Linked DNA regions of Homo sapiens: region 2 is linked to region 1. The links come from fine-mapping of genetic effects on gene expression. A gene starts in region 1. The other region holds a variant in brackets. All regions are shown on one strand. Distances are between the middles of the regions.

Region 1 (10,804 bases):
TCAGCCTCCCACTGTGCCTTCTCTAATTCAGAACCTACCTAAGAGTAACTGCTATTCTGACATTGATCCCTTTGTTATGTTTGCTGTTGTAGAACTTCTTATGGACAGAATTATACGGTAGCGGCTCTTTTGTGTATGTCTGACTTCTTTCAGAATTATGTCTAAGAGACTCACCTTTTTGCTACGTGGAGTTCTTTCCCTTTTTCATTACTTTGTAGTATTCCATAGGGTGACTTTACCACCAGTTATTTGTCTTTCTACTACTGATAGACACTCGGGTTGTTTCTAGTTTGGAGTCACAACAAATGAAGTTATCATGAGCATTCTTATATATGTGTTTTGGTAAACATATGCACTTATTTTTGTGCATTCTATCCAGAAGAGGAATTGCTGGGTTATAGAGCATTTGAGTATTTAGCTTCAGTAGTATTGCTCTGTATGTTCCAAAGTGGCCATACTATTTTACACTCCCAGCGAAGATGTATGAGAATTCTAGCTGCTCCACATCCTTGCCAACACTTGCTATTTTCAATTTTAGACATTCTAGTAGGTGAGCAATTTTCCACTTAAATGTATAGTAGCACTAATGACACTACAGTGAGCATGGCACTCACCTAGTTGTCCATGAATATCTGTTTTTCCTTTCCTTAATATATTAATTACAGACTTTTAGCTGGTTACATAGTCACTCAACTAGCAGCTACATTTCCAACTCCCCCTTGCAGCTACATGTGGGCCCAGGACTAAGTTCTGGTCAATGGTATGTGACAGAAGTGATGTGTGCTACTTCCTGGTATTGCACTGAAATCTATTGATCACACTCGTCCTGGCCTATGAAATCTATTGATCATACTCTTCCTCTTTCCAGCTAGATGGACGGTAACATCCAAATGGGAGACAGCAAAGCTCCCCACCAGTCCTGGTCCACATGTCTACCTCTGATAATGTTATATAAGAAATGAATAAACTTCTGTCTCAGTCAAACCACTGGATTTTTATCATAGCAGGGAATCGTGCATCCAAATAAACACTCTGTGATTGCTCATTTGCCCTCTGACTTGAACACACCTGGGCACATGTTGTTTCTATTTGCTTAGCACTCATCTGTGCATTAGGGAACTGCTCTCCCACAGCCCTGCAGTTCTGTGAGATTGTGAACTGTACCTGCTGCAAGCATATGCATGTGGCCCAGGTCTGACCGGTTGTGGTTTCTCATCCTTCTCTGGAATTTTGGGTAAATGGGATTGGCATGAGAGCCAACAGAGCCAATCAAAGTTCTTCCATGAGATTTGCAATATAAAGAGAAAGAGTCTTTGTCATCATTTTAGAGTTTGGTGGCCAGGAGCCTTGTGACAGGAGAGGATAAAACCAACACCCAAACAGAGCTAGGGCCAATCAGAGAGAAAGAGGGAAAGAGTCAGAGAGCCGAGAGAAGAGGGATATTTAATAATGGCATCCAAGTCCCTGGATCTAACTGTACCTGGAGCACCTTTAGACGCAAGTGAGCCAATAGTATGAGCTGAATTTCTGTCATTTACCACCAAGAGTCCTGTCTCCTTCATTAATGCTATAAACATGTTTGATGGCAACTTTATAAAGCACTATGCAAGATGCTGGAGATACAAGGTCCCTTTCCTTTAAAATAGTAATTCTTAGTCTGATCAACTTTGAAGGGTCCATCCAGATGGAAGGATGATAAGAAAAGAATTACATTTTTTTCCCCACTAACCTCTAACTGAAAGGAAGCATTTCCTTCGGGTGTACATGCAGGCAACAAACACAGCCACATCAGCAGTATGTAAGGACTTCTCAGCAGAAATCACAGCGATTCTCACATCACATCATGCTCGTTACAGACTTTAAAATATCGGCTGACTTATCATGACTTGGAAACTACAGCTATCAGATCTGCCGCCAGAGCATATTATTAAAAAAGAAGCAAGTAGATCACATTTTAAAGTATTTTGGTAGCTGGATTTCAGTATAATTCATTTCCTTTTGAATCCTGTATTTGACTTTATGCATTTAAACACATTACTCTGAAAAGAGTTCTGTAGACCTCACCACTCTGTGAAGTTCAAAATGTAGACCAGAGAAGAAAGAAAACTATCAACAAACAATTATAATGGAAGCTGGTGCAGGCACCAAGGAAGTGACGTGTAAGGTGACATTCGAGCTGAGGAGCAGGGTGGGGGATATTAGCTCTGCCCAGGGTGCATGGGTTTGTGTTGGAGGAAATGATGCCAGGGCAGAGCCTTGACACATAAGTGGGTGTCTGCCAGCCAGCCAGGGATGCGAAGAGGTCCATGGTCTGGCAGTTGGTGACAGCAGTCACCTTAAAGGTCAGAAAGGCATTGCTGGGGCAAGTTCACTTGCTGGGGCAAGTCTAATCCAGCAGACACCAGCACTGATTAGATCAATGGTCAGATGGGGCCACATCAGCATCCTGTACACTCCCCAGTATGACGAAGGATGGCTTGGTAAACCATTCTGCATGTTCAGTGATGTGGGAAGTGCTGCCATGAGTGTGTGCACCAAAAATGGATTACACCCCTTCACCAGATTTATCTAGCACTTAGTGGTTTGACAGTTGAACGCTGTGCAGGAGCACAGAGCAATGATAACATCTCAGCACGGCCTTCATTTCTATGCTTCTGCTGGTGTGACCCCACGTTTCCAAGTGTGGCTTTAACAAAAAGAGCTCTGTGGGTCCTGTGGGGGTCTCAGTGGCAGTAAGGACATATGAGGGTGCTAGAGGTGCCTGGGGATCTCAGAGCCTTCAAAATCCCTTTCGGCTTCCTTCATTGACATGTTCTAACAATCAGGGTGCCTGACAGAGACCGGTGTGGACTCTCTATTTTGGAGAGGCTGGCCAGGAAGGCCACACTCTTACCAGCCTTTTCTGGGGTGCGGGGAGGAACAGAGCTAGGAGTAGGAGTCACAGCATGGTCTTGGCAGCCACTGCATGGTAACAGTGGAGGTGTGGCTCACCCACGTCTCTGCAGAGTGTGGTCACATTCAAAGGACATCTCCCCGGACTTTTCTAGAAGCTGCTGGCAGGTCCCAGAGCCAACCTTCCCACAGTCCCTCAGAGGACCCCGTTTCTCCACTTGCTGTGCTGACTCTCTCTCTAAGCTTAGCCTGGACACTCTGCATGCCACTACAGGTGAGAGGCGGCAGGCCGACTCTTTCTGAAGACACCTCCTCCACTGCGTAAGGCTCCACACTGGGCGATCTGGAAACGGCTCCCAGCCCACTACGTGCCTGTTCCCTCCTGCACTGCAAAGTGGAAGCAGAGGATCCTCTCTCCTCATATCCACCTGGGCCGTGTTGGAAGCTGAGTATTATTTGTGCTGCCATACTTGAGTTTTTTTCTCATATGGGACTTAACTATTATCAATCCAGTTACTATGCTCATATGCATATAGATGGTGTCAACATTCTGGCTGGGAAATGCAGAGAAACTTTGCAAAGCATGGTCTCAGTATCCAAACACTTGGCATTTCTGGGGAAACTAGGAAATAGATTGGTTAATATGATCTTTGATATGCTTGAACTTAATATTGGAGGGGAAAGTAAGGGGGTGAGAGGTAAGGCAAGATTGGAGTTCATTTAGCTACTTTTATTTTTATTTTTTGAGACTGAGTTTTGCTCTGTCGCCCAAGCTGGAGTGCAGTGGTATATGATCTTGGCTCACTGCAACCTCCGCCTCCCGGGTTCAAGTGATTCTCCTGCCTCAGCCTCCTGAGTAGCTGGGATTACAGGTTTGTGCCACCATGCCCACCTAATTTTTGTATTTTTAGTAGAGACGGGGTTTCACCATGTTGGCAAGGCTGGTCTCGAACTCCTGACCTCAGGTGATCCGCCTGCCTCAGCCTCCCAAAGTGTTGGGATTACAGGCGTGAGCCACTGCACCCAGCCTGCTACTTTTATATCTATGTTTGAAATGTCCCACGACAGAGTGTGAAACAAGAATAAAAAGGCAAGCTTGGTCACTTTGGGAGACATAGGCAATCATGCTGAGAGAAGGGAACAGGGAAGAAGGTCAGAGAGGAGGGAAGAGGAAGACCTAATAATGGCATCCAAGTCCCGGTTCTAATGGTACTTGGGGCATCTTTGGATGCAAGTGAGCCAATAGTATGGGCTGAAGTTCTATCACTTACAACTAAGAGTCCTGTCTCCTTCATGAATGCAATAAACATGTTTGGGGGCAATTTTATATAAGCACGGTGCAAAGAAGCCCTTGTGTTCGCAGCCTGGGCATTGCGGAAAGCTTTTTGGAGTTTTTACTGAATTCTCTCATGTTCTTCTGTATGCATTAGGAAACAGGCTAGAGAGGACAGTATTCTGGAAGGTCATGATGCCAGAAGTGTGGGCCCCAGGACAGCCATGCAAAGTCTCTTCTTTGCCCTGGGCTGCCCTCTATTAGATTCTGAGCATGTGGGTCTAAAAGCCAGGAGAGAATTCAGCAGTTGTTGAGAAGCATACCCCTCTGCTGCTGGTCCCCTCCCTGCAGTGTGTTCCCAAGGTGGCCCCAGGCCTGTCTAGACGCTGGCTGTGAAGGGCACGCTCCTGTAGGGGCAGCCGGCTCTTCCACAGTGAGGTCTGTCAGAAAGCGCCCACGATAGGCAGGAATCCACTTTCTCATCTAATTTCCACCCATCTGTCCTCATTCTGCCCTTCATAACACCACAGAGTAATCCTTCTTCCCGGGACAGTTTTGCACATATTGGGGTTCTTCTGTCTTGTGCTCCACACATTGATTTTCTAGGCTGAAGACTCCCGGTGGGTCAACTCCCCTCCCACGGGATACTGCTGGCTGCCTTAGACACCAAGCAAGGGCATGGTATTCTAGATGTGTCTGACTAGTGAGGAATAAAAGAGAGTCCCCCCACCCCACCCCAATCAGTGCAATGCTTGCATGTGTAGATCCTAAGCGTGCATCCCTCCTTGGGTATAGAATGCTGTTAAACCAGTTCTGTCCTAATCCGTTCCCATTATGTTTCAATCCAAATGGGATGTGGAACATGGATTCATGGACCCCTACAATTGGAAAAGAGCTTGGAAAAGACTTCTCTAGTTTTTCCTGTAATAGTCACCAGCACTGAACCCGAGCACACGGTGCAGTGGGCTTTACCTGCCATTCTCTCTCCGTGCTCCCCAAACCCTCCAGGACGACCACACTGTCCTCATGTTGCAGGGTACAGAGGTTTGCTGAGGCCTGAGGTTATTTGGAAACTGCAGAGCTGTGAGTCAAGGGAGTCTATCAGATTCCAGGTCTGGATTCTTCAGCAAGAGGGTGGTGGCTGCCATGCCGTAGAGGGAGGAGGGGGTGCGTGCTCCACCCCACCCTGCTTGACACCAGCTTTGCCATCTTAGCCTTTGCTGGGCCGAAGCCCTATTCTCAGAGCTCCGGCACTGAACCACAGAAACCACAGGAGGCCCTAGAACGGAACTCTGAGACTGTTGGGCCTTTAACTCTGTGACTGTTGGGCCTGGGACTGGCTTCATTTGTAAACTCTGGCTCTCAGAGCCAGTGCTCAGCAGGAAAACAGCCTCAGGGCCCCTGCCCCTCAACAGCAGTCTGTAGTCCAGGGAGGTATCACCTGGCCTGGAGAGGGGCTCCCCAACTCCTCACATTTAGGGGAAATCTTAGCTGGTTCCGTAAGAAACTGTGTCCCCTTCTCAGGACTGTGTTCCTCAATAGGCCTCCCAGCCTGGCCAGTCACTGTGCGAGCCCTGTCACCTCTCCTGGGGGCAGAGGGAAGAGGTCTGGATGGAGCAGCACCATCTCTGAGGGCCCCCAGATCCCCAAACCCATGGGCTAGTCACAAACAAGTCTCACCAGCAGCCTCACAGGAGGACCATTTGCCATACAGAGTGGAAAATGATGAACGTTTGGCAAAAGGCTAGCACGGGGGTTCAGGGAAACCAAGACTCCAGGTGGTGCCAGCCCCTCCCCTGGGGAATGGGAGCAGCCTGGTGTGAAATATTCTTGCCCAAAGTCAGCAGCCAAGTGTTCTGGGTGCCACGTGCCTCACGCACACTGCAGGTCAGGTTCTCAGAAGAGCTGGCCCAGGGTCTGGGGGTGAAAAAAAACTGGGGGATTTGGGGGAGGCCTGGAAAGGGTGGGGTTCATCCAGGACCCCAGAAGGGGCAAGCTTGTCTATTGAGAGCTGGTGAGGAAGAGGGTGACAGGGCACCTCTTGGTCCTGGGAACGGGTGCTTGACTCAGCAGAGACCAACCCAGGGCTGAGGGACAACCCTCTGGGCCTGGCGGGGAGGCAAGAGAGATGGGAGGTGAGGAGGAAGGAGTGGGGAGCAAAAGTGGGGAGAAGGGGAGAGAGGTGGAAGAGTGTTGCGAAGGTGAAGAAAGAGGAGGAAAAAGAGAAGGGAGGAAAAGAAAGGTTGGGGGAGGGAAAGGAGGGAGGTGAGCAGGGGCGAGGAGGAGGGAGGAGGAAGGAGGAAGAAAGGGGCGGGGCCATAGGAGGGAAGAGAAGAAGGGGGAGAGGAAGGGGAAGGGAAAGGGGAGGAGGCGGGAAGGGAGGGGGAGCGGAGGAGGGGCCTGCGCGCCCGCCCCGCGCACTCCGTCCCCGCGCCGGCCTCAGCGCTCTCGCGCGCCGCAGCATCCCAGCCGCCGCTGCCGCCGCCGGGCCTCCCCGCCACCCCCTCCCCGGCCCGGCCGCCTCCCGCCGCTGCCGCCGCCGCCGCCGCCGCCATTCCTGGCGCCCGAACTCGCCCGGCCGGGAGCCGCCGCGGGCAGGACGCGCGCTGCAGGTAAGCGGCCGGGCTGGCGCGGGAGGGAGGGCGCGCGGGGCCGGGCAGGTGCGCTGGGGGCGGCCTGGACCCTCCGCGGAGCCCCCACTCCACACCCCTAGGCTCCTCACCGGACCCTCGGGGCCCTCCCCGAACCCCTGCAGGAGCCTCCTTCTGGGATCCCCGGACCCCTGGACTCCTTCCTGGATCCCCCCGGGGCCCCTCCTGGGACGCCTCCCAGAGACACCTACCCGGACCCCTCCGACCCCCTGGACCTCTCTGCTATCCCTCCCCGGCCTTCTCCCCTTCCCGGTTGCCTCCCCAGTCCCTGCGCGCAGGTGGCTCCTCTGGGCGCGGGGGAGCGGGGGCGCGCTGCATACCCGGGCCAGGGAGGGGGCGGTGCGCTCGGCCAGGCCCCGTCGCGCCCCGGCCCGCCCAGTCCGGCCCCGCCAGGTCAGGCCCCACTCCGGCCAGCCGGGCTCTGGCCGGGCCCCCGCGGGCTTCTATTTTGGTCGCGGAGGCCGCGGACCCTGTGCACTGGACCCGGCGCCGCGCACTCAGACAGGTGGGGCAGGTTGGGCCGCAGTGGTCAGGTCGCCGCCTTGGCAGTGAGTGCTGCAGGCCTCGGTTTCCTTTCGGGTTTTGGTTGCATTATTCTAGAACAGCCCAGGAGAACCACAAGCCTTAGCTTGGGCTGCACCTGTTGCAGCCGCCTAGTGAGCTGCAAGGGGCTGGCTCTACTGGGGTTATGCCAGTAAAAACGTGTAAAGGAGAGTTGAACTCGTGGTTGTCCTCTATTTTCTGGCTTAGTATTTTGGGGGGTAGGTGGGAGAGTGGGTGAATGGGAGTCTGTAAGTGGGCAGTTTGCGTCAAATGAGGCCTGGTGTCGAGGGCTGGGTCCTGCTTTCCGGAAGGTTTTCCACATGAAGTTGCTTTGCTTTTGTTTTGAAAACCTCACTCTGTGTTGAGCACATCCCAGGCTCGTGGGTGGCCAGGCCCCCGAAGGCCAAGCTGGACGTGGGGCCTGGGGCCAAGCATCTCACCCTGCTGTTCTGAGTCTTTTCAAATCCACCAGGCGCCACGGAACGGAAGTTTCCTTTCCTGGGGGTGACGTGACACCAGTGGCCTGTCACCTCATATGTGTCCTAGGCCTGGGGCCTGCCTGCTGGCTGCCCAGGCGAGGTTATTTGGGAATGTTTACTGTGTCCCAGAAACAGGCAGCTCTGGCCAGTGCAGGGGCAGGATTCTGGTAGAGATGATAATGCCCTGATTGTCATTTTGACAGTTGGTGTCTGCGTATATCATGTCTTGGTAGTCGTCAGCCAGAAGAAGAAAGCAGGCGGGCTCAGCATACCCACCAGGGAGGCTGGGGTGGGAAGATGAGGGATGCACTGGCCTGTTTCTGTGAGCAAAGACTGCCCTCCCATAAGGCCAGACCTTCAGACTGAGAAGAGTGTACGTGGTACACTCAGCGAGTCAAACAAAGAAATAGAAACACATCACTGGTGCCAGGAGCAGCCCTGGGGTCCCAGGAGGGTGGGCCGCTTAGGAGTTGGTAGACGGTGGAACTCAGTGGCTGTATTTCAGAGTGCAGACAGGCAAAAGGCCACCGTGGGGATGCAGAGCCCCAGCTGCCATGCCAGCCCAAGGTCTTGCAGCACAGCACAAGGGAGGGACTCCATGGGAGGGGGCCCACCTCCTGAGAAGCACACCCAGAGTCTGTTGAAAATGCAGCCTTGCACAGACCCCCCTGAGTGCCTGGGGTCCTGGGCTGAGGTTTAGAGTGCAAGACCAGCGACCATGTTGCATTTGATATCCAGTGGGTCTGGGGCCAGGGAGATGTCCTTGGTGACATCATCCACTTGTGGACAGTCCTCTCCATGTGGACCGCTGGAGGCAGATGTTACCTAGAGCCGCTTTCCCCACACCAAGCGGGTGTGTCTAGGCCAAAGCTTGGGAGTGCACGCTAATGGCCAGCTTTGACTGAGGAGGGAGGGAACGTCCGCTGCTGACAGCACAACAGCAAAATCAATAATGCATTGCAAAGATCAATGGTTTTCTCTATCTTCTGTGCTTCTGCATTGAGGCTGTTCAGGCTTCTGCCTCTCTTGGTTCCATTTCTGTTGGGGAGGGAGGGATGGGCGGGTCCAGGAGGGTGGTTGCAGATTCTCCTCCTGACCCCTGGAGCCAGAGCTCCAGGGTTGGAGCTAGGACCCATGGGGATGAAACTTGCCACGTGAAAATATAGAAATAAACGTGCCGTCGGCTGATTGTCGAGCCTAGTTGCTGAGAGAAAGGCTGCTGCCTGCTGTTCCCAACCAGGGCAGTTATTTCTTCTTTGAACTTGGACAATTCCAGGAAGAAGACTAGAAGGTGAGAAGGGAGGTGGCAGAGGCAGCTGGGGTGGGTCCTCTCTTCCCTGGGCCAGGGTCCGCCCTGGGCTTGGCAGGTGCAGTTCCTCAGCCCTGCCCATTGCATCCCCATCCCCATCACCATTGCCGTCCAGGGTCCAGGGCTGCTGGAGGAGATAGCTGCTGATTCAGTCAGGTGGAGAGGGTGTGCCAGGGCCTTCCCTGGAAGCTGGGTGGTGTTTTAGGTGCACTAGTTAAGGCGATCCTTGGGATAAGCAAATTGCTTTGCTGCTTGTGGGTCACTTTTCAGCTTCTGTGACCCTCCCTGAGCGAATTTGCCTTTAGCTGGGGGTGTCACAGCAGGGGCCCCAGCTTTCTACTGCCTTGCTGCTTCCCCTGGGGCATCAGCAGCCGCCTTCCCACAGCACCTGTGCAAACCTCAGTGGGGGGCAGGCAGGGTCCTGTTATTTGGTCCAGAAGTTTCAGATGCTGCCCATGAAAGCAATGACTGCATCCCTGCCCTGGATCACATCTAAGTGGCACCCCAAGATTTCTGGCTTCGATCAAAGCCTGATCCAGGCTGTCACTTGGATCAGCATTTGATCCAAGCATCACTCCTTTGAAAACTAGGCTATTGATGTGTCTCATGGACATTTGTGGAGTGAATGATGATTTTAAGGAATTCCTTAATCACAGCATCGTGGTTATGTTAGAATAACTTTCACCCTTTAGCAATAGATACTGAGTGTTGGTAGATGAAATGATGTTTGGGATCTGCCTCAGATTAGTGTGGGGTGGGGAAGCAGAGGGGATGAGAAGGGGCGAGATGGTCTGAGTGGACAGTTTGGGGTCTGGATGAGAGTACCTGGGTTCTTTGTTCTGTTCTGCCTACTTGCATGCACTTTGAAAATTCTCCATCATGAAAAGTTAATAATAATCGGAGATCTCCAATTCCTCCCTGTAAAACATGCCATTGGATTCTTTACTTCATGATGGCATCATTCAAAGGTTTACTTTAAAAGATATGCCAATCTATTAAGTAGAAATGTCACTCCTTAGTGTAGACTATAGAGAATGTGCCCTCTCCATGCACAAGTGCAGGCGCTCAGCACGGAAGCCCATCTGGAAGGACACACACCTGGTATTCAGCAGATCATTATGGAGCCGCCTATGTGGACCTGGTGCCAGGCGCTGCCCCAGGCTCTAGGGACTCAGCCCTGAGTGAAAGCAGCACTCCACAGTTAGCAAAGGGTGGGGCGTGTGTGAATGTGAGTGAGTGTGTGTTGGGGGAGGAGAGGGAAGAGGAAGAGGGAACCTATACTTTGTCTTCTTTTTGTACTTATGTATGGTTTGTTTCTGTTACAAGGAATTATTTTTGGAATATCAAAATGAATTTTCAAAAAGTGGTCTTCATTAGGTCATATACTTTCCTCTGGCGTTTTAAATAGAATTTGATTTGTGGAAGTTCATGTTTCTACACGTCTTAATAACAGATGAATTGGCTTCCATGAGGCAATCAATGAATCAATAGTTATTGATCCTCTGAATATGTGCTTTGTGGGCTATGAAGGATAGAAATCAATATGCTACTATCAGCATTAGGGGAGACAAGACAAAGACCCTGACAATTAAATAATAGTACAATCCAGCCACAGAAGGGTTATCCTTACACTCAGTACAGAAACAAAGGCCAAGTC
Region 2 (12,121 bases), 85 kb before region 1:
ATGAACAGCACCTAGCTGTGGCTGCATACAAAAACTGTACATCTCATCACAGGATCCATACTACTGGACTAACTATTGAAAAGTGACGTCATGTCATATCCTTCTTCCTCGAACCACTAAAAGGTTTGTGATTGTTCACCTGAATCCGTTCTGGAACAAAGGTCCCCCTGAGTTGAAAAGGCCTTTTTGTGATGCTGTTTCCTTTTTGAGTGCTACTGAAAACACTGAAACATTCAATAATAAAAATAACATCAACTGAGCACTTCTGTATCAGGTGCTGTGCAGACACTTCTCATTTAATTTTCACAACAGCCCTATGGGGCAGCACTCCTATTATTACCACTCCAGCTAATGTGGACACAGGTTCCCAGAGGTTAGGTTAGGTAATTTGCCCAAGGTCCCAGCAAATATGAGTCAGGAAAGAACACTGGTGCTTTGACTCCTGAGTCCACACGCTTAATCACGTTGGAGTATTGCCAAATACTCCAAAATCTTAAATTCTTTTTTTTTCTTTTTTTTTTTTTTTGACACAGAGTGTTGCTCTGTCACCAGGCTGGAGTGCAGTGGCGCGATCTCGGCTCACTGCTACCGCCGCCTCCCGCGTTCAAGCGATTCCCCTGCCTCAGCCTCCCAAGTACCTGGGACTACAGGCACATGCCACCACACCCTGCTAATTTTTTTGTATTTTAGTAGAGACGGGTTTTCACCATGTTGGCCAGGATGGTCTCGATCTCCTGACTTCCCAAAGTGTTGGGATTACAGGCGTGAGCCACTGCACCCAGTCAATCTTAAATTCTTAAAGGTAGAAGGACCCTTCTGAATATGTAGCAAAGAAATGACAAAAACTGGTGCATCAGTGCCTCCATCAGTGAGAGGAAAGGACTTTCTGCTGGAACAAGCTGAGCTAACATCACAGTGACCTGAAGACAACAGGGTTTGTTTCTCTCACCACAGTTCTGAGGCCAGCAGTCCAGGTGGGCCTGTGCAGGTGCCCAGATACAGGGCCCCTCCTGGGTCATTGCCCTTCATTCCCAGTTTGAGATACTTTGTTACAGCAACCTTGGGAGACCCTAAAGGACTTAATGGTCACTTTAAAACACATCCAGAATTTCTTGACATGGTTTCCAATGAAAGAGGGAGCCAAGTTCCTCTCCCCTTAAACGCATGACTTGCATCTGAGAATGCAGTGAGAGTGATGCCACCTGCTCTCTGAGGCCAGGTCGTAAAGGAGACATCCTGGCTCTCTCAGGATCTTGCCTAAGATCCAGTCGCCATGTTCTGAGGAAGCCCAGGCTACATGTTCTGGCCAATGGCTCAGCTCAAGTCCCAGGTGAAAGCCAGCTTCGACCACCAGACATGAACGTAGAGAAGCCTGGAAATGACTTGGCCATGGTAATGGCTGCGCAGGAGGGATTCTAAGAGGGAGCTGCCCAGCCAAGCCCAGAGTTGGCAGAGGTCCTGAGCAAATCACAGTTGTAGGCGTGGGGATGTCTGTCATGCAGCAGTGGAGAGCTGAAGCCCCCCTGGGGTTCTGGAAGGGAAGAGACTGTGGAAGGAAGACAGAAGTACCTGGTAGTCACAATGGGCGATGCAACTTCAAAATTAAAAATGACAATGAAAATAATAATTAATAATTAAATAAACCAAATAAGAATTGTGATTTAAAATAAATATTGTTTAATTAAAAATATTTTAAGTATTTGGTGGAATTTCCAGTGAGGCCACCTGGGCCTGGAGTTTTCTTTCTGGAAAGGTTTTTAACTCCAAATTCCACACTTTTCATCAATATGGAGTGATTCAGTTATCTATTTCCCCTTCAGTAAGATTTAGTCATTGTGTCCTTTAGGAAATTGTCCATTGTTTTAAGTTTGAAGTTTATGGACTAAATTTGTTCATCATATTTTGTTGGTGCCCTTTTAACATCTGTACAATCAGTAGTGATGTCATCTCTGTCCTTCTGGATGTGATCATTGGTAGGTTTTTTTCATGGTCAATCTGGCTAAAGGTTTATCAATTTTACTTCTCTCTTCAAAGAATCAGCTTCTAGCTGGGCATGATGGTTTGTACCTGTAGTCCCAGATATAGAGGAGGCTGAGGCAGGATGATGGCTTGAGCCCAGGAGTTCAAATTCAGCCTGGGAAACAGAGCAAGACCCCATCTCAAATAAATCGATTGATTGTCCCTATGATCATCTCCCTATTTCATTTATTTATCCTATGATCTTTACTCTTTCCTTTCTTCTGCATATTTGGGGTCTTTTTGTTCTCTCTCTCTCTTTTTTTTTTTTTTTTTTTTTTTTTTGAGACAGTCTTGCTCTGTCGCCAGGCTGGAGTGCAGTGGCATGATCTCGGCTCACTGCAATCTCTGCCTCCCGGGTTCAAGCGATTCTCCCTCCCAAGTAGCTAGGACTACAGGTGCCCACCACCATGCCTGGCTAATTTTTGTATTTTTAGTAGAGATGGGGTTTCACTATGTTGGCCAGGATGGTCTCGATCTCTTGACCTTGTGATCCACCCGCCTTGGCCTCCCAAAGTGCTGGGATTACAGGCATGAGCCACTGCGCCCGGCCTATTTTTTCTTTTTTTAATGTGAAAGCTGAGATCATCAATTTAGAGCCTTTGTTTTCTGATATATGTGTTCAGTGATACAATTTCTCTGTAAGCACTGTTTTAGCAGCATGCTCCAAATTTTGATATTTCTTTTCATTCAGTCCAAAACGATTCCTAATTTCCCTTTTGATTCCTTCTTCAGCCCATGAGGCATATAGAAGTGTTCATTTCCAAAATTTAGAAATTTTGTCTATAGCCATATCACCCTGAATGTGCTGCATCTCACCCAAAATATTTAGAGACTTCCCAGAGATCTCTTGTTATTGTTTTCTAATTTAATCCCATTGTGGCTAAAGAACATTTTATGGTTTGAATCCCTTTAAATGTATTGACGCTTGTTGTATCGTCAGAACTATGGTCTGTCTTGGTAAATTTTCCATATGAACTTGAAAAGAATGTGTTTGCCGGGCATGATGGCTCACGCCTATAATCCCAGCACTTTGAAAGGCCGAGGCAGTTGGATCACAAGGTCAGGAGTTCGAGACCAGCCTGGCCAACATAGTGAAACCCTGTCTCTACTAAAAATACAAAAAATTAGCCGTGCATGGTGGTAGGCACCTGTAATCCCAGCTACTCGGGAAGCTGAGGCAGGAGAATCTCTTGAACCCAGGAGGCGGAGGTTGCGGTGAGCATAGATCTCGCCATTGCACTCCAACCCGGGCGGCGACAGTGCGAAACTCTGACTCAAAAGAAAAGAAAAAAAGAAAAAGAAAAAAAAAGTGTTCTGCTGTCGTTGGGTGGATGTTCTGTCAATTAAAGGAAATTGGTTGATAGTATTGTTCAAATCTCCTGTATCTTCACTGAACTTCTGCCTAATTATCCTATCAATCATTTGAAAGAGGTTATTGAACTCTTCAAATCCAATTGTGGATTTGCTTATGTCTCCATGAAGTTCTTCGGGTTTTTGCTTCTTATATTTTGAAGCTCTATTATTATACACAAAAATGTTTAGGATTGTTGTGTCTCCTTGGTGATTGACCCCTTCTTCACTGTGAAATTTTTCCTGGCCACATGCCTTGCTCTAAAAGCCATGTTTTTGTTAACAGAGCCACTCCAGCATTGTTTTGATTAGTGTAAACACAGTATATCTTTCCTTGTCTTTTACATTTAAAACATTTATGTTTATATATTTAAAGTATGTTTCTTTTAGGCAGAAAATAGACATGTGTCTTGTTTTTTTTAATCCAATCTGACAATCTGCCTTTTCTTTTCTTTTTTTTCTTTTATTTTAGATTCAAGGGTACATGTACAAGTTTGTTACCTGGGTATATTTCATGATGCTGAGGTTTGGGGTATGAATGACACCATCACCAAGACACTGAACATAGTACCCAATAGTTAGTTTTTCAACCCTTGCCCCTGTCCCACCCTCTAATAGTCCCCATTGCCTATTTTTCCCATCTTTATGTCCACAGGTACCCAATATTTAGCTTCCACTTCTAAGTGAGAACATGCAATCTTTGGTTTTCTGTTTCTGTATTAATTTGCTTAGGATAACGGCCTCCAGCTGCATCCATGTTTCTGCAAAGGACATTATTTTGTTCTGTTTCACGGCTGCATAGTATTCCATGGTATATACGTACCACATTTTATTTATCCAGTCCACCATTGACGAGCACCTGTGTTGATTCCATGTCTTTGCTATTGTGAATAGTGCCGAGATGAACATGCAAACACATGTGTCTTTTTAGTAGAATGATTTATTTTCTTTGGGATATATATCCAGTAATGGGATTGCTGGGCCAAACGGTAGCTCTGTTTTCTTTGAGGAGAAATCTCCAAACTTCTTTTCACAGTGACTGAACTACTTTACATTCCTACCAACGTGTATGAGAATGCCCTTTACTCTGCAGCCTCCACAGCATCTGTGATTTTTTGACTTTTTAACAATAGCCATTCTGACTAGTACGAGATGTTATCTGATTGTGGTTTTGATTTGCATTTCTCTAATGATTAGTGATGTGGCTGGGCCACTTATCTGTCTTCTTTTGAGAAGTGTCTGTTAATGTCTTTGCCCATTTTCAAATAAGGTTATTTGGGTTTTGCTTGTTGAACTAAGTTCCTTATAGATATTAGACCTTGGTTGGATGCATAGTTTGGCAATTTTTTCTCCCATTCCATAGTTGTCTGTTTATTCTGTTGATAATTTCTTTTTCTTTTTCTTTTTCTTTTTTTTTGTTTGTTTGTTTGAGATGGAGTCTTGCACTGTTGCCCAGCTGGAGTGCAGTGGTGCAATCTTGGCTCACTGCAGCCTCCGCCTCCCAGGTTCAAGCAATTCTTCTGCTTCAGCCTCTCGAGTAGCTGGGATTACAGGCACCTGCCACCACGCCTAGTTAATTTTTTTTTTTTTTTGGATTTTTAGTAGAGACGGGGTTTCACTATGTTGGCCAGGCTGGTCTTGAACTCCTGACCTCACTGTCCACCCGCCTCAGCCTCCCACAGTGCTGGGATTACAGGCATAAGCCACCACAACTGGCAGATAATTTCTTTTGCTGTGCAGAAGCTCTTTAGTTTGATTAGGTCCCTCTTGTCAGTTTTTGGTTTTGTTGCAATTGCTTTTGGGGACTTAGCCATAAATTCTTTGTCAGACAGTATTTCCTAGGTTGAGAAGGGTATTGTCCAGGTTTTCTTCTAGGATTTTTATAGTTTGAGGTCTTACATCTAAATCTTTAATCCCTCTTTAATCCCTCTTTAATCTTAATCTAAATCCCTCTTTAATCTTAATTTTTGTATATGGTGAAAGTTAGCTTTGTATACTTTATATAGGGGTCCAGTCTTATTCTTCTGCATATTTTATATAGGAGTCCAGTTTCTTTCTTTATATGTGGGTCCAGTTTCATTCTCTGCATTCTTCCAGTACCATGCTGTGTTGGTTACTGTAGCCTTGTAGTATAGTTTGAAGTTGGGTAATATGATGCCTCTGGCTTTGTTCTTTTTGCTTTGGATTGCTGTAGGTATTCGGGCTCTTTTTTGATTCCTTGTGAATTTTAGAAGAGTTTTTTCTAGTTCTATGAAAAATGATGTTGGTTTGATAGGAATAGCATTGAATCTGTAGATTGCTTTGGGCAGTGTAGCCATTTAAATGATATTGATTCTTCCAATCCACGAGCATGAGCATGGAATGTTTTTCCATTTGTTTTTGTCATCTGTTGTTTCTTTCTGCAATGTTTTGTAGTTCTCCTTGTAGAGATCTTTCACCTCCTTGGTTAGATATATTCTTGAGTATTTTTTGTTTGTGTGCCTATTGTAGATAGAATTGCATTCTTGATTTTGCTCTCAGCTTGAATGTTACTGGTTTATAGTAATGCTATTGATTTTTGTACATTAATTTTGTGTCCTGAAACTTTGCGTAAGTCATTTATCAGCTTTAGCAGCCTTTTGGTGGAGTCTAGGGTTTTCTAGGTGTAGAATTATATAACCCATGAAGAGAGATAGTTTGGCTTCTTCTTTTCCTATTTGGATGCCTTTTATTTCTTTCTCTTGCCTGATTGCTCTTGCTAGTGTTTCTAGTACTATGATAAATAGAATCTGCCTTTTCATTGGCTTGTTTAGACCACATACATTTAATGGGGTTATTGCTATGATTAGGTTTAAATTTATTGTGTACTATTTGTTTTCTATTTGCCCCAAGTTCTTTATTTCCATTTTCACTTTTTGCTGCCTTCTTCTGGATTAATTAGTTGGATTCCCTTCTTTTTCAGCTTTGTTGTTGTTGTGTTGTCGTGTTGTTGTTGTTGTTATTGTTTTAGTGATTGCCATAGGGTTTATAGTATCTGTCTTCAAACTGTTAGTCTTTCTTCAAGTGATATTATACCACTGCATGTATTCTGTAAGAGCCATAAGATAGTATACTTCCATTTCTCTCATCCAGGGCTTTATGCTATATTTGTCACACATTTTACTCATACATACATTATAAATCCTACACTGCCCTATCATTTTTGTTTATACAATTACTTTTAAGGAAATTTAAATCATAGGAAAAAGGTCTTAGAGTTGCTATAAAGTTACCTTAGCTCTTCAGTTCTTAGATCCAGTTTCCCATCTGGGGTCATTTTCCTTCTGCCTCAAAGACTTCTTTTAACATTTTTGGCAGTGTCATTCTGCTGGTCAGAACTGTCTTGCTTTTGTATGTCTGATAACGTGTGTATTTCACCTTCAGTTTTGAAGGATGTTTTCTCTGGGCATGGAATTCTAGGTTGAAGGTTTGGGTTTTGCTCTGCGCTTTAAAGGGGCAGCTCCACCATGTTCTCTCGTGTCCTTCCCAGTGAGAAATCTGCTCTTGTTCTGCATCTGTTCCTTTGTGCTGCTTCTCTGGTTGCTTTTAAGATTAGATTATGATGTGCCTTGATTCATTTTCCTCATTTTTCTTGTGTTTGGGTTTTATTGAACTTTATGGAGTGGTAGATTTATACTCTTCATCAAATTTGGATATTTTTCAGTCATAATCTCTTTAGATAGTCTGTCTGTCTACATGGATGTCTTTAGATAGTCTGTCCATCTACTATAGTCATGTCCATATACATGGCAATCATGTATAGTTGTCCCATAGTCCAGTGATGCTTTTTAGTTTCTTACCCAAATTTTAGTCTTTTTTCTTT[C/T]TTCCTCTAGCTTTTTGAACATAAGAAATACAATTATAATAACCATCCTAATGCTCTTATCTGCTGATTCCAACATCAGCATCAATTTTGGGTCAGATTCAGTTGATTGATTATTCTCTTCATTTGGGGTTAAGTTTCACAGGCCTGGTGATTTTCTATTCAATGTCAATAATTTCCGGCTGGGCGCAATGGCTCACGCCTCTAATTCGAGCACTTTGGGAGGCTGAGGCAGGTGGATCACAAGGTCAGGAGTTCAAGACCAGCCTGGCCAAAATGGTGAAACCCCATCTCTACTAAAAATACAAAAATTAGCCTGGTGTGGTGGCTGGCACCTGTAATCCCAGCTACTCAGGAGGCTGAGGCAGAGAATTGCTTGAACCCGGGAGGCAGAGGTTGCAGTGAGCCAAGATCACACCACTGCACTCCAGCCTGGGTGACAAAGCAAGACTCCATCTTGAAAAAAAAGAAATCCATTTTACCTCATTGGATACTAGATTATTTCTGTATTCCTACAAATACTTTTTTAACTTTGCTCTAGGAGGCAATTAAGATTCTTAGAAACAGTTCAATGCTTTCAGGTCTTGTTTTAAGATTTGTTATTTGAATCCAGAGCAGATTGAAGTCTAGGGCTAACAATCCCCCACCACTGGGGCAAGGTCCTTCTGCGTACTATCCCCGGTGCCCCATAGATTCTGTCTTTTTTCAGCCTGCCTGGTGGGAGCAGGCACTATTCCCAGCCCTGTGTGAGTTCCCAGTACTGCTCCCTCTAATCCTTTGTGTGGGTTTCTCCCCAGCCCTGGGTAGCTTCCACGTACACATTCATTGATCCACACTCTACTAAATACTAAAGGGGGTCCTCCGAAGATCTCTGGGCTTCTATCTCTGCACAGCTCTCTCTGCAGTGGTGCCCTGCCCTGGGAAGACCAGCTGCCTTGGACTTCCCCGATGCCCAGCTCCCCTTTCTCAGCCCCAGCAGTGTGCCAGGTTCCAACACGAGCCTCCCTTTATGCCGGAGCCTGGAAACTCTATTCAGGCAGCCCGTTGGGAAACTGCGGGACTATTCTCATTTGTTTCTTGGCTCTCTCAGGGATCACTGTCCTTCCCTGTCTCCTGTCCAACATCATGAAAACTATTATTTCATATATAGTTGTCTGGTTTTTTAGTTATTTCAAGTGGAAGGGTAAATGTCATCTGTTGCCCCCTCTTGGCAAAAAGCAAGAGTTTTGGACAAGTGCTTACTTTTAATCATCCTTTTCTAGCACATATATTTCAAAAGCACAAATGAAGTGCCTCCTTCATCTTTGTACCTCCAGAGAGTCTAATTCAATGCCTTGTACATAGGATGTGATCAGCAAGTGCTGCTGATTGATTAATTGAGAAGAAATGGTGTTTCTTTGTTGCAGGCAGGGGAAATGATGAAGATGAACCATTTTCCAGCTTTTCCAGAAGTAGATCATTAAAATATGGTTTCTGACTCCAAAACAGCACACAATTTTGTTTTACAACTTTTTTATTTAGCTATGAATGCATATAAACATTTTTTAAAAGGCAAAATCCAAAAGTCTGGCCACTTTTTGGATTATGCTATAGGACTAGATGGATCAAATTACTAAAATTGCTATAATCTACTTCAACCTAGGAATTTGTTTCTAAGGAAATGGGATGTTGTATTTATAAGTACATTTGTATGTTTATTTGGCAAACATTGGGCATCCTCTGGGGCCTTGGGGCCTGGTGCAGCAGCTCAGCAGGGAGCTCCAGCACTGCAGCCTGGACAGCCCTTCATTGGTGGGTGGGCTGACTGTGTAGGGCCCGTCAGACACCTAGCCCCGAGTGAGACGCGCCATGGAGAAAAGGAGCCGTAGAACAACAGTCATGACAAGTGCAAAGAAGGAAAAATACAAATGACTAGGGGGAGCTTAGGCAGAGTCAGGGAAGGCTTCCAGCCAACACCCAATGCACCAATATCCAATGCACGTAAACACAGAATCAAAGAGCGACCTTCATTCTCAGAAATCCTGCCACCTAAATTCAAAGGAAGAAAGTGTTTTCCTGGTGGCTGCAGTAACATAGAAGCCTCCTCTCTCACAAGGGAGTCAGAAAGTCACCTTCCCACCAAAAAAAGGAATGAAGCTCCATCCCAGGCGTCTCTTCCTCGATGATTAAAAAGACCAGGCTGGACCAGGAGACAGTCAGGTGCTTGGCCAAGGCTCCACTTCCCGTGGGTCCTGCCTTGTGGAGGGCAGCCTTCTTCTTCTTCAGTTGATTTTGGAAGTGGAGAGCGCAAGTGACGACTGCTCATTCCAGAGGTTTGGTTGTGAAAGAGAAGGCTGCAGCAGCAAACTCAGGGGAGGCAGGACTCTGGTGTGAGGTCGAGGACAGTAATGAGCATGAACTTGTCTCCAAGATGGGCGGAAGCAGCCAGCAGATGGCTACTCAAACACCATCAAGAGAGGAGGTAGCAGGATGGCTTGGGAAGGCCCAAGAGGTAGGCCTTGTTGGCAGCCAGGGCACAGGGGAAGGCGTTGCCTCCAAGTGGGGCAGAAGCATGTCTTCTGCTGCACCAGGAGGATCGGATGGTATGGATACGCAGAGTCGCCCAGTGCACCATAGACGAGGGCTTTGATGCTTGCTCTCTGAAAAGGAAATGTCACCTCTGTGACCCGAAGCAGACGTGGCCAGCACTGCTGGGCTCTACTGCTAGAGGCTGGGGGTCCGGAAGTTCCCGTTGCATCAGTCATTGTGGTTGTGGGTTCTTCTTTAGCCCAACAGCAGTCTCTGCCCGTGTTCACATACAGGAGGCAGATAGTCACGTGGATAGATTTTGGGTGGGGTTTCCCATAAGAGGGGCAACTAGTGAAGGAGTAGAGGATCTGTACATGGCAGTTGATCAGGTGGAAGCTGGATAAGGGTGAACCGGAACACAAGAGGGAAGTTGCTAGCAGGTCAGGGGCCAAGAGATTGGAAACGCCTACAAAGACAAACTCACACACATAGACACAGTCACCTCTATGCCCAGGTCCTCCCATACACATACACACACTGTCACACACACACACCTGCCAATGCACATTTATACATACACACATCCATGCATACATATGTCCATGCACACATGTCCACATGTGCCCATGCACACACACATATCCACACACATCTGCTCACATACATGCACACACACAGCTGCCATCAACAGCCCTGGCAGAATGAGGTGGAAGAGTGAAACGTTTAAATTTAAAAATTTGTTTTGAAGGCAGTGCCTGGGTTCATCCTAACCCAGGAATATCCTTCTTTCCAAAATATTGCTCATTGTGAATGCAGAACAGCAGTTTAGAACATCTCCCCTCCCAGGCACTTGCATTCTGAGCCAAGGCGTCCATGGCACAGCAGACAACAGGGTGATCTTGGCTCACTGCAACCTCCGCCTCCCAGGTTCAAGCGATTCTCCTGCCTCAGCTTCCCGAGTAGCTAGGATTATAGGCATGCACCAACATGCCGGGCTAATTTTGTATTTGATTGCTATGACATGTTGAATGTGCTGTTCCTCAATAGTAATTCATAGTTCCCCATGGTTTGTGTGTGTTTGCTTCCCCTTCCGCCATGATTATAAGTTTCCTGAGGCTTCCCCAGCCATGCTGAACTGTGAGTCAATTCAATCTCTTTCCTTTATAAATTACCCAGTCTTGGGTATGTCCTTATTAGCAGAATGAGAATGGACTAACCCTCCACCTTCAAAGCCAGCAACAGCAGATCGAGTCCTTCTCACATCCATCAGGCTGATGTCCTCTCTGCCAACCCCTCCCACTTACAAGGATCTTCATGGTTACATTGGGTCCCACATGGATATTCCAGAATAATCTCTTAAAATCAGTTAATTAACAACTACAAGTCTATCTGAAACCTTAATTCCCCTTTGCCCTGTCATGTAACATGTTCTCAGGATCTGGGGATTCAGATGTAGACATCACTGGGGCATTATTCTGCCAACCACAGAGGTCCTTGTGAGAAAAATAAAATCATATGATTGGAAAGGAAGAAATAAAACTGGATTTATTCACAGATATAATAATCTACATGGAAAAATCTAAGGAATGTACAAAAAGCCACTAGAACTAACAAGTGAATTTGGCAAGATTGTAGGATACAAGTTCAATTTTTAAAAATTTGTTGGATTTCTATATACTAGAAGTACACTGAAAGGTGGAAATGTTCAAAACACAATAAAATATTGGAAATTAGCAACATTTACATGACATTGTAACATTTACAGTGACATCAAAGAATATGAAATACTTAGGAATAAATTAAACAAAAGATGCACAAACTACAAAACAATCCTGAGGAAAATTAAAGAAGGTCTAAATAAATGGAGAGGTATACCATGTTCATGAGTCAATATTGCTATGATGTCAATTCTCCCCAAACTGATTTAGAGATTTGGTGAAATCTCAAGTAAAATCTCAGGAGGTTTCTTCTTTTTTGCAGAAATTGAGAAGCTAATTATAATATTTACATGGAATGCAAAGGATCTAAAACAATTTTGTTTGCTTGTGGCCAACACAATTTTGAAAAAGGAGAATGAGGTTTTTTAGACTAACTGCTCATTTCAAGATTTATTATAAATCAACAGTTATCAAGACATTGTGGCATTAGTCTAACTGAAAAAAAACATGTAGGTCAATGGAATGGAATAGTGAGTTCAGAAATAGATCCACTCATGTAGAATCAATTAAATTTTGACAAAGTTGCCAAGGCAATTCAATGAAGAAATGATAATTTTTTCAACAACTGGTACTGAAACAACTGGATGCAAATTTGTCCCATGCAAAAACAAAACAATGAAATGCAACCCCTACATCACACTGTAGAAGAAGACTAATTTGAAATGGGTCATAGATCTTAATGTGAAAG

The links. PIP is the estimated chance that this variant, and not a neighbour inherited with it, causes the effect.
Region 2: its variant is fine-mapped to the expression of SEMA4D in tibial nerve (GTEx, PIP above 0.99).

The regions. Positions count from the first base shown.
Region 1 is chr9:89,493,892-89,504,695 of GRCh38, reverse strand. It overlaps SEMA4D (semaphorin 4D), which reads left to right and starts at 6,583. Exons shown (of 16, transcript NM_001371194.2): 1 at 6,583-6,777. RefSeq lists silencers at 6,494-6,683, 7,114-7,263.
Region 2 is chr9:89,578,009-89,590,129 of GRCh38, reverse strand. No RefSeq gene overlaps it. Among named protein-coding and RNA genes, the nearest start is that of GADD45G, 21 kb to the left of the region's middle. The variant C/T (reference allele first, on the strand shown) is at 7,211.